Linked DNA regions of Homo sapiens: region 2 is reported to be linked to region 1. The links are microRNA targets in miRTarBase. Many come from high-throughput screens and were not tested one by one. Region 1 holds a microRNA gene; the other region holds the end of a gene's coding sequence.
Evidence for each region. Region 1 holds the annotated microRNA hsa-miR-320b (AAAAGCUGGGUUGAGAGGGCAA, at 2,632-2,653, opposite strand). A microRNA usually pairs through its seed, bases 2 to 8, with sites in the 3' UTR of a target mRNA and lowers its output. Matches are read on the target gene's strand: a 7mer-m8 pairs with bases 2 to 8, a 7mer-A1 pairs with bases 2 to 7 and ends in A, and an 8mer does both.

Region 1 (4,395 bases):
ATGTCTCAGAAAAAACATCCCATCTACAAGGCTCCATTCTGCTGTAATATCATGGTTGTTTGGATTCTTAGAATCTCAGATATATGGTGACACACTTTTCCTTGTGCAAGGACAGACGCTCTGTGATCAAACTAACATCTTTTCATTGGAGAGGCCAAGTCAAATTCTTAGAGTCCTCCACCTGGACCACAGCATGGTTGAAAGTGGCAGCCAGCCCAGGCAGACAGCCCAGCTGCCCTGGGACGTTGAGAGAGAAAGATTGGGGGTCAGCCAATCTAATTCAGAAAAGCTACTCCAACGTGACAAGCGTCATGGCTTTCAGCCTACCCACAGGTTTGGGTTCTTTAAATTCTTTAGCAAAGGGAGGGAGGCCATACAGGGAAGAGCATGGGCCAAGAGCCAGAGCTGGATGTAAGGAGATGCAGATGCAAGGCTATTGAGTTAAGAAAAAAATCAGGATTTGCTGAGATTTTGGAAAAGACGAATGGAGAGTCATTAAATGCTCAAGGTTTGGGGCTGGGAAAGATCGGGAGCCTGTTGACCGTGGTGAGAACTAAGTTCAGAATGGAATACTGGTAGAAGAGATGAGCTCCTCTGATTCTTTTGATCTGGGGTCAAGCTATGCAGTTGAGGGAATTCTCAATCCCAATCAAAAATGGACTTGGACAGAGGGGATGGGATCATGAATCTGTGAAAATCCATCATAAAATTTTGACCTGAAAGATCCCTTTTAAAAGTCTTCTTAGACTAGTCTCAGACATATGTTCAGAAATAGGATCTTCTAAATGGGGCCTGGGAATCTGCACTTTAAATGCTTTGTGAGTAACTCATGCACAGCCAGTTTGGGACTTTCTCACTAGTCTAATCAACCTCTTTTCTTTTCTTTTTTTTCGAGACAGAGTTTCGCTCTTGTCACCCAGGCTGGAGTACAATGGCGCAATCTCGGCTCACTGCAACCTCCGCCTCCTGGGTTCAAGCGATTTTCCTGCCTCAGCCTCCCAAGTAGCTGGGATTGCAGGTGCCTGCCACCATGCTCAGCTAATTTTTTGTATTTTTAGTAGAGACAGGGTTTCACCATGTTGGCCAGGCTGGTCTCGAACTCCTGACCTCAGGTGATCCACCCGCCTCAGCCTCCCAAAGTGCTGGAATTACCGGCATGAGCCACCGTGCCTGGTCATCATCCTCATTTTACAGAAGAAACTTAGGTCCAGAGAGGTCAAAACACAGCATAAGCAGCAACTGGAAGCTAGAATTTCTGACTCCTGGTTTCCTCTCCTTAGACCATGTAAAGTACATGATTAGTGAAGAGAATAGCTAATGAACACTGAGAACTAAATACCAGGCATTTTGCTAAGTTCTTTCCATATGTCAACTTATTTAATCCTTCCAGCCTCCCTTCGAGGGCAGGTGGTATTTGTTATCCCCTTTTACAAATGAGGAACCCAGAGTAAGAGAGGTTAAGTAACTTGACTGGGGAGTTAGGTGTCAATAAGTGCAGATCTGGGACACAAGCCCAGGCGTTCTTCTTCAGATTCGCTCTTCGCCGTCATCCAAGAAAATAAGCTAACACAGCACAGGGGTTTTGTGAGGAAAGAAGAACGTTAGCTGAATACAATCTTATTTCCCCCTGTGGGATAAAGTCATCTTCGAAGCTCCATCGGGGGCGGGGGCGCAAATCCAGACCCTTCTCTAACGCTAGATGGCGCATCTCAGGTTCTGAACACCCACCTGTGGATAAAGCCTTTGGGGACTACCCACTGGCTACCCTGATCTCAAGATATCATAGTCAATTCTCTCTCTCTCTCTCTCTCTCTTTTTTTAAAGACAGATGGTGGGGGCTGGGCGCTGTGGCTCACACCTGTAATCCCAGCACTTTGGGAGGCCGAGGTGGGTGGATCACCTGAGGTCAGGAGTTCGAGACCAGCCTGACCAACACGGTGAAACCCCATCTCTACTAAAAATACAAAAAAAAATTAGCCAGGCATGGTGGTGAGTGCCTGTAATCCCAGCTATTCAGGAGGCTGAGGCAGGAGAATCACTTGAACCCGGGAGGTGGAGATTGCAGTGAGCCGAGATTGCACCACTGGACTCCAGTCTGGGTGACAGAGTGAGACTCCGTCTCAAAAAAAAAAAAAAAAAAGACAGATGGTGTCCTGTGTAAATTATTCCTAGTCTTCGGCTCTGGGGATCCTTGCCTGTGTAGGAGGGTAATCACCCAGAAGAAAGCTGGCTCTCGGGAGAATTGTTGAGTGGGACACTTTTAGCTCCAACTTGGCTGTTTTGTGAGGTAGGGAGGTTTGCTCTTTTCATTTGGCATTTTGAAGTACATTAAGTACAATTAACATCAGTTGCTTGTGAGTACACAGTATCAGCCTATCCTTAGACAAAATGCCTTGGCTTCAATCTTCTTTCAAGTGATGAAGGATAACTTGGCTAACACCCTTCATTTTTTTCCCCTTAAAACATGTAACTCTATGCCATTTGTGGTTTTATATTAGCCTTTTGGTTATAGCTATTGGTAGGTCTAGAAACCTCAAACTGATATAACCACTTGGCCATATCTTATCCACGAAAAAATTTTGTGTTGGCCCCCCCAAAGTGTTTAATTAGTTAATTAATTAGTTAATTTGTTTGCCCTCTCAACCCAGCTTTTCCTCACTCTAGGAAGAACTAGAAAGAGAGGGATTAATTTATTTTTGAAACACTAGTTTCCAATGAGCAAAATTAAGAATAATTTTTTTTTAATGTGGATTTCCTGATTCTCTTAAAAAGTAGGAAAATCAGGCAACACCACACCTTCCTTCCCAGCAGCAACACTTTGCTGAAGCTGTGCGTGCTCTTTCAGGCTGTGCTCTGGGTGCACAGGCCCCAGTACTCCCTGGCACTGTGCTTCAGCTCGGCTTCTGCAGGCTTCTGCATTTAACTCCCTGATGGACAAGATCAAGGAGTCTTCCAAAATGTCCAAAATAAACAACTGATTCCAGGCCGGTGCAGTAGAGGTTTCAAAATTCAAATGCAGAATGTTTTGAAGCAAGCTGGAATGTTCAGCCCGGGCACCAGACATTGCTGACTGGGGACTTCGGTGCACTCCTCTCCTTTGACATCTCTCCTTCCCTTAGGACTCTCTCTTTCTCTCTCTCTCTCTCTCTTTCTTTCTTTCTTTCTCTCTCTCTTTCTTTCTTTTCTTTCTTTCTCCTTCCTTCCTTCCTTCCTTCCTTCCTTCCTTCCTTCCTTCCTTCCTTCCTTCCTTCTCTCCCTCCCTCCCTTCCTTCCTTCCTTTCTTTCTCTCTGTCTTTCTTTCTGACAGAGTTTCGCTCTTGTTGCCCAGGCTGGAGCTTGTTGCCCAGGCTGGAGTGCAATGGCACGATCTTGGCTCACTGCAACCTCTTCCTCCCGGGTTCAAGAGACTCTCCTGCCTCAGCCTCCTGAGTAGCTGGGATTACAGGCATGCACCACCATGGCCGGCTAATTTTTTGTATTTTTAGTACAGACAGGGTTTCTCTATGTTGGTCAGGCTGGTCTTGAACTCCCAATCTCAGGTGATCTGCCCACCTCAGCTACCCAAAGTGCTGGGATTATAGGGGTGAGCCACTGTACCCAGCCTCCAATTCACTTCTCTGCCTGCTGATGAACTCCTGAAGGGGCCACCATCACATCACTGTTCAGGACTCATTTAATCGTTTCTATGTCTGGAGGGCAGAGGCATTCTTTTAAATTATACTTTTGTCTCCCCATCCAACACTTTGCACAGTTCTTTGCATATCGTAGATGTGGAAATTAGAAAGAATGCCATGCTGGGAATCAGCCATAACACATCTGGGTGGTGATGGAAGTCAAGGGTTGAAAGATCATCCAGAAGGATGCAAGGGGCCAAGTAGTATGAAGAGGGGCAGGTTGAGATTGAAAGAACGAGTAATAGAGAAGGGATAATTGAGTATAGGGGTTCAAGGATGAAGGCCTAGGCAGAGGCCTCAGAAAGTACAGTCTTGCACCTTGATGGGGGTACACCTTGGTGGGGGTCAGAGAGTTCCAAAGCAGGCTGAGATGCCCCTTCTGGAAGATTCCTTGACTCTTCTCTTTCTCTCCCCCTCCATATTCAGTTCTTCAGAGAATTTCATTGACTCTGCTTTCTAAATGCTTTCAGACTCCACCCATTTCCACAACCTGCATCAGCACCACCCTAGTTTAAGCTGTGATCATCTCTCACCTGCGCAATGGAAAGAACCTCCCATCCAGTGTCCCTTGTCCACCCCTACCATCTGATGCTCTATTCTTACCCAGCAGCCAGAGTGAGCCAAGCTCCTCAGGTTAGAAGGTCCTACTAGATTTGGCCTCTTTGACCTCTCTGATCACATTCCTCCTTCTCCTTCTGTTTTATGCCATTTCAGACACACT
Region 2 (4,395 bases), not on the chromosome of region 1:
TTTTTAACAAAAAATTTATTACCAAAATACAATATTAAAGTCAATACATGACAAACTCCTGTAAAGCAAAATAAATTATTCTAACATTGTACAGTATTTCCAAAGGTAGTTAAAGAAGCACTACAGACCTTGCCTCACTGTTCTGAACAGATGAACTGCTCTCCCATGAACACAGTCCTAGAGTTTCCGCTTTAAGGCATGCAGCTTGATGTGCAGGATAATTTTACAAAATGCAAATCATCCTATTTTAATAAGATACAGTGTCAGAATTAACTGTAGTCTTTACATGTCAGTATTCCAGAAATTTTTATACTTTGGCTATAGAAGCAATGCCATAGTGTTACACAATACTTATTTCTTAAAAAAATACATGTATTCATGTTCATGAATATCAAACGCAAATTTCTATTAAATATATTTTATCGAATATTACTTAGAGCACCTTGCTGTACAATTTAAAAAGATTAAATAAGTGTCTATGAAAACTAAAAACACAATAAGTCTCAACAGAGAAGCCTGCTTGTCTTTGTCAAGCCAATTACAGCACGGGAAGGTGCAATGTAAACATGGATGCCCACCATTTACTTTGTGAGAAAAAAAACAGAAAATTATGAAGCCACCAGCAGCCACCTTCAATAGGAAGAAAGATCCAGAACAAAGGCTTCGGTCGGTGTCACAACATTGCACTATCTGGCCAAAGAACTTGGACTACCGATCAAATGGAATATTAGCATGATACTGTTGAACACTGGGACACCCGCCATATTCTGGATGATTAGAGAAAGGGAGAAAATGATAGAGCCCTGAAAAGTATTCTTTATAATGATCAGAATGCATCATCTTCCCCCCTCCCCACCTTTGCCATATGTAGTTTCTTTTCAAAGCTATTTTCACTATCACGTCTTAGTATTTTTTAAGTGTTCGGAGCAGAAAACAAATACTATGAGCTCTGTCTAATAAGAAGTCAATACCAATAAATAACATGTTATTCTATGAAGGAATTCCTACTGAATTTTTTTTTTGGGGGGGGAGGTAAACAGAGGACCTCATCTGTCACCCCGGTTGGAGTGCAATGGTGCCATCACGGCTCACTGCAAGCCTCTATCTCCCAGGCTCAAGTGATCCTCCCACCTTAACCTCCCAAGTAGCTGGTGCTACAGGCACGTGCCAACTATGCCTGGCTAATTTTTAATTTCTTGTAGAGACAGGGTCTCCCCGTGTTGCCCAGGCTGGTCTTAAACTTCTGGACTCAAGCAGTCCTCCAGCCTTGGCCTTCTAAAGTATTGGGATTACAGGTGTGAGCCACTATGCCCAGGCTACTGATTATTTTAATAGCTATCTCTTCTACAGTTAGAATTGCATAATCTTCATTATTACTTTTAGAAAACTCAATTGTTCTTGGTAGACACATTGTTAACTTAAGGCTTGCCACAAAATGATAATGGGAAGGGAAAGAACCTCCTTGATATATGCTTCCTCCTATCGGCCAGGAGAAAGCTTTTAAGGACAATTCTAAGGCCAGAATCAGATGAAACTTTAAAGGCTTTGAACTTCTGGGTTAGTTTTTTCCCCATGAGGTGGGGAAATTTTAAATCCATGATTCCAGGTGGAAAATTTAAGTAACAATCAATGGAATTAGTTTAAAGAAATAAAGGTAATTTAAAAATTCACATCATTGAAATTTTGGGGATGCTTTTCATTATTATTTTCTAAATATGATATAAAACTAAAGCCAAGGAAATTTTCTAAGACAAAATCCTTCTAAGGTTGTTGATTTTCAGAACAACAGATTTTTATAAAGAAATACTGAGTCATTGTACCAGCAATGAAAAAACTGACTTACAATATGAGTGGCAACAGTATGGGTAATAATAATGAAATCATTTTAAATGTTCTATTTGAATTTGAAATTAAAATGTTTCAATTCCGAAAAAAGGAGAAAATGAATATAAGTCCACATACAGTGGATTTGAGGAATATAGTATATATAAATCCATTTCATATTTTTAAAAACCACGTATCAGAAATGGATTAACTTTCATAAATAAATTAAAGCTACCTAAATAAAAAAGCTGCAAAGTTACAATCATTTATGTTTGTTTAAATATCACCAAAATGAGATTAGAAAGAAAGAAAAAAAAATCAGAAAATGTTGCAAGATGCCTGGCCCCACTTAAATAATTCCTAATAATAATTTTATAAATATTAATCCAATCATACCTGGACTTTAGGAACAGAATACTTCTTAAAACGTGCCTACAGCGTATCCCATTCGAAAACCTTTACAGTGTTCCAAGTTGATCGGTCACAGCCTCATCCAGGTGTTAGAAATCAATATTCAGATATTCGGAAATAGCACCGTGAGGATGGTGCACAGAAGAGCGCACCGACCTTTTCACTTGTAGGCAGAATTTACTTAAACAAAACAATGCATAAATGAGTAATCAGAACTACAAAAACAAAAACACCCTGTTTTCTTCACTCCTTGAAATAATTAAAATACAAAATGTGTAATTAATAAGATTACATCTATTTGATGGTGAGTTTTAATGCTAAAGCACTTTGTGTTGGTTTTCCATATGTCCTATCGCACTCTAACAAAATAGAATTTCCAGATAGGAAGAATCCTATAGACTTGCCAAATGCTATTTGTTATTAAAATTTTTACAAACAACCTGAATTTCTGCTATATTTTAGTCACATTTGGTTATATTCCTCTTCTGCTAAATATAACTAAATTAATATACCCCAGGAAAGAAAAGCTCAACACAGCAGTACTCATTTTCAGGAGCTTTTAAATTTCACCCCTCATCCCCTAAGGGATTTTTGGAAATAGTTCAAACTATTTCCAATGCCGGATGATCAAATGTAAATTTTCATACATTGTTTCTTTCACACACTTTCAGATAACAAGTGTGGTTTCATTTAGCAGAGTATTAGAAGGTCTACGTACTATGGAGAAAGTATGCCAAGTTCTGACAGACACTGAAAAGAACCTCTGAGAACACGGAAGACGATTTAGCATTACTACGAATTGAGATCTGGTTTGAGTCTGGTGAGAATTCACCTGTTTCGTCCTCTGCTCACAAGAAATTCATCGTAAATTTAAGACAATACTTCTTGAATGCCTATTTACAATCTAGCTTTGAATTTAGAGATCTTTCCTTTCTTTTTTAAGGAGTAAAGGAACATGTCCTAGATTGAGTATGATTAATTTCTATCAATTTAGGTATTTCAGTAGATCATTTCAAAGCCCTCTAATTATGTTTCCTTGTTGACTCTGTTGGTGACACTGAAAAAACCCCCTCCCAGAACTGCCTCCCATTTCTCACTGGAGGCCTCACAGTCTGCATTTGACAAGTGAGAAGAAAACTAAGCTCTGCTTAAGACTGTGACCCTTTTATGACTTTTAGAATAGTTCCTGAAAAGCCCTTTCTTAACTCTTGCTGGCATTTCTACACTCTAATAAGCTTTTATTAATAAATACACTCGACACTAAGAAGGGGTGACAGAGGGTTAATACAGGATTACACCTCTACTTCCTCTTTGACCCACTCCCCCTCACTCAAAATATTTAAATATCATTACTGCTTGTCCATTTGGAATTCCTTTTATTACAAGTTTGGTTCCAAAGTCACATCTGTCATTTCCTCAAAAATCACATCAACGACTTCTTCTGTGGCAGGAAGTTGTCTGACAGCGTAAAGGTGAAACTGTGGTGAAGGAATCCTCTTCTACTGCTTTCCTGCTCGAGTCATTATTCCACCTAATTTGTGTTTAGAGCTGTATTGTGGTCCTTATTCAGGATGATGTTTACAATTTCACCCTCGTGCTCTTTCATATGATCCAAGAGGTTTTCTTTGCTGGTTGATTCAAAACCACAAATACAACAGCAGAAGAGTAAAACGCAGTACTCCATGCTAGGAGGGGCCAGACTGGAGATTTTTTCTAAACTATATGAGGTATTACTTGTAGGGCTCAGTTTCTCATTCTCGTTGGTACCCAGAACTTCACTGGGAGTCTGGGACATCAGTTCTGAAGATGACACTGCATTTTCTGAACTTCCAGTGACGGGATCTGCACTCTCTTCACTGCTCTTTAATTGAGTCTTTCCAGGGGATTTCCCCAGAACTCTTAAAAACAAAACAAACACAGCACACCGTGAGGAGGCTACAATGTAGGACTAGTAGATTTAATCCTGGCTTTAATTTACATATAGCAATAAAGGGAGGGGGTAGGATGAAATACCTGCCACTTTGTGAAATCGCGTCGTTAATAGCCTTGTTTACTTGTTCGTAGTTGTAATTTTGGTCACTTGCATGTTTCCACATATGAGACTTCAAAGAAGGAGGATGGCTACACACATACCCACACAGAGAGCATCTGGAAGACAGG

Region 2: the mRNA of ZNF507 is a reported target of hsa-miR-320b. Seed matches in the 3' UTR shown: 7mer-m8 at 2,069-2,075 and 7mer-A1 at 2,051-2,057.

Annotation. Positions count from the first base shown.
Region 1 is chr1:116,670,045-116,674,439 of GRCh38, reverse strand. It overlaps MIR320B1 (microRNA 320b-1), which reads right to left and starts at 2,694; the gene lies at 2,623-2,694.
Region 2 is chr19:32,382,455-32,386,849 of GRCh38, reverse strand. It overlaps ZNF507 (zinc finger protein 507), which reads right to left. Exons shown (of 7, transcript NM_001136156.2): 6 at 4,249-4,383; 7 at 1-4,133. The coding sequence ends at 3,767. Among named protein-coding and RNA genes, the nearest start is that of DPY19L3-DT, 21 kb to the left of the region's middle.